Homo sapiens: one gene and its partner. The protein of the gene in region 2 purifies or fractionates together with the protein of the main gene of each other region. This does not show direct contact. Each region holds a gene or a part of one and is shown on either strand. Other genes may lie near its edges.

Region 1 (3,399 bases), on a different chromosome or scaffold from region 2:
TCATGCTTTCTGAATTTTTCCAGGGTTTTTTTCCAATTAGAAGTTCCGTGGGTTGCAAATGACTCTCTTCCACAGCTAAAATATTTTTGGCAGAACAACTGGCATGAATAACAGAATGCCACATCTTTTTTACTGTTTTCCAAACACTCAAAATCTGCACAACAAGATTTTTTAATACTTCGTGATTTACCTTTAACTTTTTGTACTTTGGATGTACATTTTGGGTGACATAGTTCATCACTTATTTTCATAGATTTCATATTGTCTTTTTGTACTTCTGTACTGGAACCAATTGCATGCTGACTGAATACTGATGAAGATGGTGAAACGCTTGGCTGTTCCGTACTACTACTAGCAACAGCATTACTGGGTTCACTAGGTGAACTCTTAGAAAGCTTTGGGAGAAAATGAGAAAAGAACATTTAACAGTTTTCAAAAATTAATTAAAATATCAAATATATCTACTCTAATAACATAGTAAAATAAATGGCTGAGTTACAGTATGAGCTCCACTAGGGGGAAACGTTAACAATTACGTATAACTTATTTATTTGCAATCTAGATTCAGCATTAAATGTTTGAAGGACCTTTTGGTATGTAATTGTCATAAAAATAATTTTTATTGCTCAGATGACTCAAATTGTGTAGTATTTTTTTAAAAGAAGAACCCAGAGGAAAAAAATACTTCTGTTTAAACAATCTACAAACATACACACACACCCCATATATGAATACATAATACATAAAATATATATTAAATATATAAATATAATATATAATAAATATACATTATAATATATTTATATTATATACAATATATTATAATATATTTATATTATATATTTATATTTTTATATATTATAGTATATATTATATATATATATAAAAAATCTGGGCCAGGTGTGGTGGCTCATGCCTGTAATCCCAGCACTTTGGGAGGCCAAGGTGGGCGGATCACCTGAGGCCAGCAGTTCGAGACCAGGTTGGCCAACATGGTGAAACCCCTTCTCTACTAAAAATACAAAAATTAACTGGGCATGGTAGCAGGCGCTGGTAATCCCAGCTACTCAGGAGGCTGAGGCAGGAGAATCGCTTGAACCCAGGAGGCAAAGGTTGCAGTGAGCTGAGATCACGCCACTGCACTCCAGCTTGGGTGGCAGAGCGAGACTCTGTCTCAACAACAACAACAACAAAAATCTGCTTATTAAAAAAAGACAGTGGTAAAAAAAGTTAAAACTTACATCCACAATGACATCTGCTGTTGCTGTTACTGAAGAAACTGTATCTGTTAAAATAGAGCATAAATTCAAGATCTTATATACTATAACCTATAAAATAGCATCATAAACTATATTTGCTTATTTCATATAAGAAACAAAAAGAAAATTTAGCATATAGACAGATTTATCAAGTATGACAAAACAATATTTATGTCAAATATCTTAACATCAACTTTTACCTTGTAAGACATCAGTGTTCATGATGGGCAAGGCAACATCGGTGTCTGCCAATGACACTATATTGCTTATAACTGGAGTCGTATCTTTCTTTGGAGAAAGAAGCTCTGTTGAAGTATCATGCACCACAGAAACAACACTTACTGACAACAATAAAAAGATTTCTTATAAACAAGGCAAAATCAATCATCAGAAAGTACTGTTTAGTAATACTGTTTAAAGAAATAATGCAAGCATCTAATAGCTTAAGGAATTGGTAGGTACTGAAGTAATTTTTATTAGGGCTTAGGAATAGCCAGGTTCTTTAGTATCGTATTTATAATTACAACATTACACTGAAAATTTACACTTCTCCAACATTTTATGTCTTTTACCTTTGTACACAATTTCCCAGTCCTTTTAAAGAATTTGTTTAAAATTATGAGCAAATTTTTCTGTGAAATTACTCATGAAGAAAAGAGATTCTGATTGAATCTCCTAATGGGCATCTATTTCAAACTCTTCCAGGATTCATAAACCTTAACATCAATGGAGCGCTAGGTTGGTGCCCAAGCCACTATTGCAGAAATTTCTGTAACAAGCCAGTTTGTATGACTTACAAATCCCAGAGGCATTAGTCACTCTATGGTCTATGTAAATAGCACCACTGGTCCTACATGAGGCTTTTTGATGGAATACTTAGTTGGCTCAGATTATTTGTGCTTTTTTATTATTGAGTCTTAAAGCATTTACAATCACTTCTATTTCATGTGAAAAATGTAATGAAAACTTGTTTTTACAAAACAGGGCTAAGTAAAACATTCTATATTCTAATAAAAGCAGTCTTGTAAATGTATTAAACTCTATATTGACCAAGTGCCTCCTATGTACCATGTTTTGCAGTAGGTGCTCAATATATATTGATGTAAACATACATATATTCATTTACTAAATAATCTAAAAAAAGACATGTATCTTTTAATTTTTATTATTATTATTTTTGAGATGGAGTCTCACTCTGTCACCCAGACTGGAGTGCAATGGTGCGATCTCGGCTCACTGCAACCTCCACCACCCAGGTTCAAATGATTCTCCTGTCTCAGCCTCCTAAGTAGCTGGGACTACAGGGACCCACCAACACGCCCAGCTAATTTTTTTTGTATTTTTAGTAGAGACGGGGTTTCAACATGTTGCCCAGGCTGGTCTCAAACTCCTGACCTCAGGCGATCTGCCCACTTTGGCCTCCCAAAGTGCTGGGAATACAGGCATGAGCCACCGTGCTTGGCCTACAAATATTAAATCTCTGGTGGTAAAGTAGCCTTCCTTTTATACAAAAATACTGAAAAACAGTTCTTTGCAACAAGTTTAGATTGTTTTGACTTTTAAAAGTCGGTTTAATTTGAAAATGAATCAAGGTTATAAATTAAAGTCAAATAATATTATTTATTAATAATTACTAAACCCCTACAATTGCTAAACAAACATTACCTGAAGAAGATTCCATCTTAGCTTTACTGTATGCAGAGAAACAATTAATAGAGCAGAAAAGCTCTGTCTTCCCCAAATCACTCGTAGTCTCAATCATTTCATCTGAGGGCTTCAATGGTTTGCAAGGAACAGATATAAGTGGTTTGGCAGGTTTCTGTTTAGAGATTAAAATAATATTCATATTCCTGGTATATGATATGTTGTTAATGAAGAAGAACCTATTACCACTGCTTTTAGTTGGAATATTAAAAAGAATAACAATTAAGACAGTTTTTACATTTTCTTAAAAAGACACTACAGATTGCAATAACTAAAAGAATATTGGCAAATCTGAAAATGATTTTTATTATTTATCAGATATATTTAACAGCAATAATAATAATACCTATGAAAGCAGTAAGGCCAGGTGCAGTGGCTCATGCATGTAATCCCAGCACTTTGGGAGGCCAAAGCAGGCAGATCACCTGAGGTCAGG
Region 2 (6,094 bases):
AAACACATGAATATTTTATCAGGCTCTGAACAAGACTCTTGCTCATGAATGTTTAAACCCCTCAGTAGCATAATGCTCAGAAGCTGATTAGAGTCAACTTGTGCTGGGATGGGGAAGCTGAGAGGAGGAGGGAAATACAACAGTGATGGCAGCAGGCATTCCACAGTGTCTCTTTCAAGGATTTAAAGCACTTAAGAGTGCACTGGAGGGCTCGCTAATTTGTTAGACACTCATTTTCCAAGTGCTTTCCCTCTAAAGTGGGAAGCAGGTCAGCTCCCAGCAGAGCTGTCTAGAGAGAGCACTGGCTGGGGTACATGCAAGCTGCTACATCAGTCACAGCCCCCATAACCTTGCCATACTTCTCTCTGCATTGGTGGCACAAGGAAGATTTTCATATAAAGTAGAGAAGACTCAAGATGAGGCAGACCCTTTATAGGTTCACAGCAGCTTTGTTCAAAATTGCCACAAACTGGCAACAACCAAGTATCTATCAACAAGAGAACAGATAAACACATGGTCAATATTCATACAATAAATACTACCTTGGAAAAAAAAGAAATGAACTACTGATACACACAATGGCACAGATGAATATCACAGACATTGTGTAGGGCAAAAAGAAGCCAAACACAAGAGTGCATACTGTGTAACTGCAGTTATATGAAATTCAGGAACCAGCAACACTAATCTATGATATTAGAAATCAGAACAAGGTTTGCTGCTTCTGTGGGGTGGAGGTGACTAGAAAGAGACGTGAGGAAAAGTTCTGTGACTGAAATATTTTATGTCTTGTTTGGGATGTGGGTTTGTCAAAACTGGCCAGCTATTAGCATAGGATTCAGCTGAGAAGTGCTGTGAGGATAAAAGAGGCCACTGATCTCCAGGGTCATCATTTACCTATCAAATATTGATTAACTTGAATTATGAATTACCTCAAAGGACTTCTAGTATTTTACCAAGGGTTCTGCCACCCTTATGGGAGTCAATGCCTTATTTGTGTAATTTAGTTACCTAATTAATCCAACAGTTATTTATTAATTGCTCATAATATACCAAATAGGAACACAGCCATAAATAAGACAAAAAAATTCCTTGTCTTGATGGAGTTTACATTAGAGTGGGGAACATGCCCAATTAACAAGGAAACACATATACTATATAGTGTCAGGGAGTGCTAAGTGCCATGAAGAAGGATAAAGCAGGGTCAGAAGACAGGGAGTGACCACAGGCTGTTTTAGATCAGGTGGCCATCATTCTGGAGAGTATGAAAAGAAACTGGAATGAGCTGAGAAAAGAAGCAGTGGCAGTGTCTGAAGGAAGAGTGTTCAGGCAGAGGGAAGAGCAAGGACGATGGTAAGCAAGAGGACGGCCATAGAATATGAGGGCACCAGACCAAATCACAAGCCCTGGTGGAGAGTTGAATGTTATTCACAGTGTGAGGGGAAGCCATTGGAGGGTGTTAAGCAGGAGAGTAATATCATCCAACTGACTGACATTTTAAGAATGGGAAAAAGAAGGCAGTTAAGGGGTCTGCTCAAGATTCTTATGGGAAAGTCAGAAGAATAAGATCCATATTTTTTTCTTAAAATGTTAATATCCTTCACACATCTATATTTGAAACACCTTCTGATTCAAGCTCTGTCCAGGACCAGATCACATATGTCTGGATTCTAAACACTGATTTTTATTAACAAGTTTGTTTTAAGATAATAAGTTTATAAAATGAGAGGTAGAAAACATCTCTGTATGTCTAAAATTTTTCATAATAAAGTACTGGAGAAAAAAAGGTGAGATAGTGATTTGCATCCTTTATCAGGCAAAATTCATCAGCAACTAAACATGAATGTTCTGATTCTCAAGACCTTTGCAAAATAAAGGCTCTGATTTTTTTTTTTCAACTAAATGTAGAACATTTCTTTCAACCCCCAAATCCACCTTTGCAGCCCAAGTCAGTCCACGTTGCACTGTTTCTGCAGCATGTCAGAGCCTCTGGCTTCTTTCCTCTCTCCCCCTTCCCCCAATTAATCTCTGAAACCTACATAAGAATGGAATAAAATGCAAATTCAAGGAGAAGGATGCAGTTTTCAGAGAAGGCCTCATCCTCCTCCTACCCTATAATGGAAATTCCCTTATGGTTAAACAACAAAAATGGAAATATTAAAACCCTCAGCTGAAAACAAACACTTAAGCACCTATTCTCCTTTCCAGAGAATCTGTTTCCCTCAATCATTATTTTTCCACTCTTTTGAGAGCCTTCTAGGCTGAAAGTTGTTTCATCTCACCCATCTTGGGTCTCTCCTAGGTCTCATTTCTGCCTTCACCAGGCTTGAAGTTCTATATCCCTAGGCTATCAGAACTTTGACTCTGACCAGGCTCAATTCTAGACTTTACTGGGGAATGGGGAGAAGCTAAAAGCTGGGGGTGGAAGAGAAGGGGAAACAGAGGGAACATTCCAGAGACAGTAGTGTCCCTGAAGGGGAATTAGGCTGGCAAAATGGGGACCAGAAAGCCACCTCTATTCCTCACAAGGGACACCTAACTCAAGCACAGCCTGCTAAAGCACTTTATTCTCCAGACTCAAATTGCCTTAACCTGTAAGCAAACGCTTCCCCAGCCATTTATCCGCAAGCGCATTTGCCCCACCTGCAGCAATGAAAGAAGCACTGTTTTTGCAAGCCGGGCTGCTACCCAGACTGCGAGGAGACATTCTGTGCAGAATTCAGCCACTGGTGGAGAAAAAGAAGTTTTTCTTTGCAGGCCTTGCTGCCTAATACAACTATATCAACAATTTCTCCCGCTGTGTAAGCCCCATCTGAAAATCTTTCCCTTTTATCTAGGATGCAAAAATGTAATGTTATCCTCCATATTCTGGTTTAAAGAACTACACCAGGAAAGACATTTTATGATAGGCTAGGGCATCATTTACCTCTAATTCAAGCATGCATGTACCTAGAAAACTAACAAAGGGGTAAGTTATGCCATGCCATGACTTCTCTTCCCAGATTTCTATCCTGAAATCTTAACAAAATTCGATTTTAAAAACCTCAAGGTTTGTATTCTTCACGAGTACATGGATACCTTGAGTTCTACCTAGAGGCCTCTAGTTTCTGACAGAGCTAACTTGGAAAGGGCTGCTTGCCAGGGTACAAGGATGTTGCAGCTTCCAGGTGACTCCCTCATGCCCAGAAGCAAGGCAGTTCAACAGACGCAGTGCAATACAATTGTCCCTTTTCAGGACTTTGCAATCTCCATGGGGGAGCCCATCGTGCCCGCCACTCTACACCCTGGGGGTGAACATGCCCTGCAAAGCAGATTCGGCGTGAGGAGACTCTGGAAAGTCTACAGGCGGTGGGAAACTGTTTCGGGATCTCTCATTTTCAGCACAGCCGGTCGCTTATTCAGCAGAAAACCCACGGCCCCATCTTCACACCAAATTACAGTACTCTCCCGTCTCTTCCACTGAAATTGCCACTCGCATCCCTGATGCGTGACCCCTGCTCACCTCAAGTTCCTATGAGAGTTTCTTTACCGGTTCCAAACAAACTGCCCAGATTCTGGAAAGGGAGAGAAAGCCCCTCCCCCTTTCCACTTTCACTTAATAATTAAGTGTTTGAAGTTTTGTGGATCCTTAAGGTCGCTGTGCTCACCTCATCAGCGTCGGACCGCCGAGAAGCGCCAAGCCCGCTGCTATGTGCAGGACGCCCACGGTCCCCCGGCGTCTCGCGCGTTCGCGGGGCTGGAAGGGGCGGGAAGGGGCGGGCCGGGGCAGAGACAGGGGCCCGCGCCCATCGCCGCGCCGGGAGCCTGGCGTGGAGGCGGCGGGACGGCGGCGCAGGCCTCTGAGGTGTGCGCGGGGCGCCGGGCGCCTCTGGCCGGGGCACTGGCTGAGCCACGCCTGCCCGCCCCTCCCTGGCGCCGCCCGCGTGGCGCGCCTCGACCCTGCTCTCCCGCGAGGGCCGGGAGGGCTCCGGGACCTTGCAGACTCCACGCGCCTCACGGCTCCTCCAGCTCCTCGGATCTTTCTCCTTGCGTCGCCGCCGAGTCCCCTGGGGCGGCCCCGCCTCCGGCCGTCTCCTCAGAGACCTTCCCTGGGGGGCGCCTTCCCCTCAGCGCCCCTTCCCGGGCCTCGAGCCAGCGGCTGCCGCAGGAGCTGGCCCCGGGGCGAGGAGCTTCAGATTCAGGTCCCTAGCCGGCCTCGGTAAGGAGACTGGAAGGATTCTCCGCGAATGCTCATTTTTATTTCTGGAGTGGCGTCGGAGTTACCAATTAGTTTTCTTATTTTATACTCTCTGGAGTTGCCAAATTCTTTACGTTGAGCTTTTGCTTATTTTATAATCAGAAAGACAAGTACGTTTCTTTTTCCAAGAATGCTTACAGGAGGCCACAAACAAGATGTTCGCACCCAGCCCACTGTCTTCCGCTTAAAAATATGTGTGAGATGTTGTGTTTAAGACACCCTCAAGGAGAAACATAGAGGGGAGACCTGGAAATGGTCTTGGGAATCCACTTAGACTTTCCATATTATATTTGTTTCATTTATTTTAAAATCTCAGACCTATTTATGTGCATTAGGACATTCCACATTTTTACAACTGCGCAGAGGAAATCTTTGGTTGTAGAGGACGGGAAGAGAGAGGCCAGGTCCGCAGACCCCACTGTGACAAGACAGTGGCTACATTCTTAACTGTTTTACACATTGTGATACCCAAAGACTTCTTTTCACAGGATTCTACTGAGGGGGAAAACAAGAGGAAGAAAGAAAGATAGACAAGGTTTTCCTCAAGGCAGTAAGCAAAAAGCTGGTTTCTCAGAAGAAAGAATTATGTCTGAGATTTTACCCAGGACTCTCCAGATCTCTCATTCTACACAGAAGGACCCTTTCATTTGGAACGTGCAGAAACTGAGGAGGACCATCTCTCTCCTCCATGGGGGCTGCCTGAGTTAAAAAGGCCTGGGTCCATCTTTTTTCCGTAGGAGAGCTGACTTCAGAGTCTAGAGCCAAATCTTCACTTCTGTGGCTCTAGATTGAGGATTTGCCCTTCTGATCTCTGTGGGGCTTTTTTTTTTTAACCTGGGAATTCCCCTGGGCTCTTCGGCTGTTATTCTCATCAACCCCTCTCTATATTCTGCAAGACATTGAAATCTTTCTCCCAGCTTGGCCCCCACCTCCAATCCCAGTATTCTCTTTTCTGAGATTGGAGTATTTCCAACCCCTCAGTTGCCAGGCACTGAAGGTTTTCATCTTCCAGGCCTGCCATGTTTACCTCTGAGATGTTTCTGGCAACTGTCCACTTCTCTGCATTCTCACACTGCTGCTCTTGATAAGCTTCGATTATCTGGGGCTGAATTGTTTCAATAATTTCCTAACTGATTTTCTTGCCTCCTATCTGTCCCCACCACCAACATAGACTTAAGAATGTCACTCTCTTGACAAAACAAGCCAACATCCTCTATCCTCTGTCCCACTCCCAAACCTGCAGTAACTTTCCTGTGCAATTGTAATACAGTGTAAACTTTCATAAGGATGGGGAGTGGCCAAGATGGCTGACCAGAAGCAGGTAATGTACATGGCTCTCACGGAGAGGAACAGAAGGGACGAGTAGATACAACACCTTCAACTGAAACATCCGGGTACTCGCATTGGGATTAATCAAGGAAACAACCTGACCCACAGAGAACAAGGAAAAGCAAGACAGGACAACAGCCCACCTGGGAGCAACAGGGAACCAGGGGATCTTCCCCTGCCCAGGGAAGTGGTAAGTGAATGAGCGACCCCGGAAACCATGCTTCTCCCACAGATCTTTGCAACCCTCCTGTCAGGAGATCTCCTTGTGAATCCACTCCACTAGCAGCAGGGCCTTCAGTCTTCAGTCTGGCAGACAGGGCTACATGGAGTCTCAGCAAAGCAGCCACTCAGGCATGCGTGGAGACCCTGGAGGCTTAGATACTTGGGCGTTCTGGCAAAAGTAGCTGCATCTCCCACAAAGAGGGAGTTTAGACTCCCATTCATACCCCTAAGAAAGAGGCTGAATCCAGAGGGCTGAGCAGCAACAGCCCGCAGGGCCCACTTCCACAACACCTCACACAAGACAGG

Evidence for each region. The genes of interacting proteins can lie anywhere in the genome.
Region 1: the proteins of GPR156 (region 2) and ZMYM1 purify together in Homo sapiens (affinity purification with mass spectrometry; 2 studies listed by BioGRID and IntAct, with this or other methods). This does not show direct contact.

What each region holds. Positions count from the first base shown.
Region 1 is NC_000001.11:35,109,973-35,113,371, reverse strand, and holds part of ZMYM1 (zinc finger MYM-type protein 1), read right to left. Parts: intron 3,079-3,399; coding exon 2,925-3,078; intron 1,601-2,924; coding exon 1,460-1,600; intron 1,286-1,459; coding exon 1,242-1,285; intron 396-1,241; coding exon 1-395.
Region 2 is NC_000003.12:120,281,382-120,287,475, forward strand, and holds the start of GPR156 (probable G-protein coupled receptor 156), read right to left. Parts: upstream 3,842-6,094; 5' UTR 3,648-3,841; exon of another isoform or gene 3,503-3,647; intron 1-3,502. UniProt on the Homo sapiens protein: Orphan G-protein coupled receptor involved in the regulation of hair cell orientation in mechanosensory organs of the inner ear.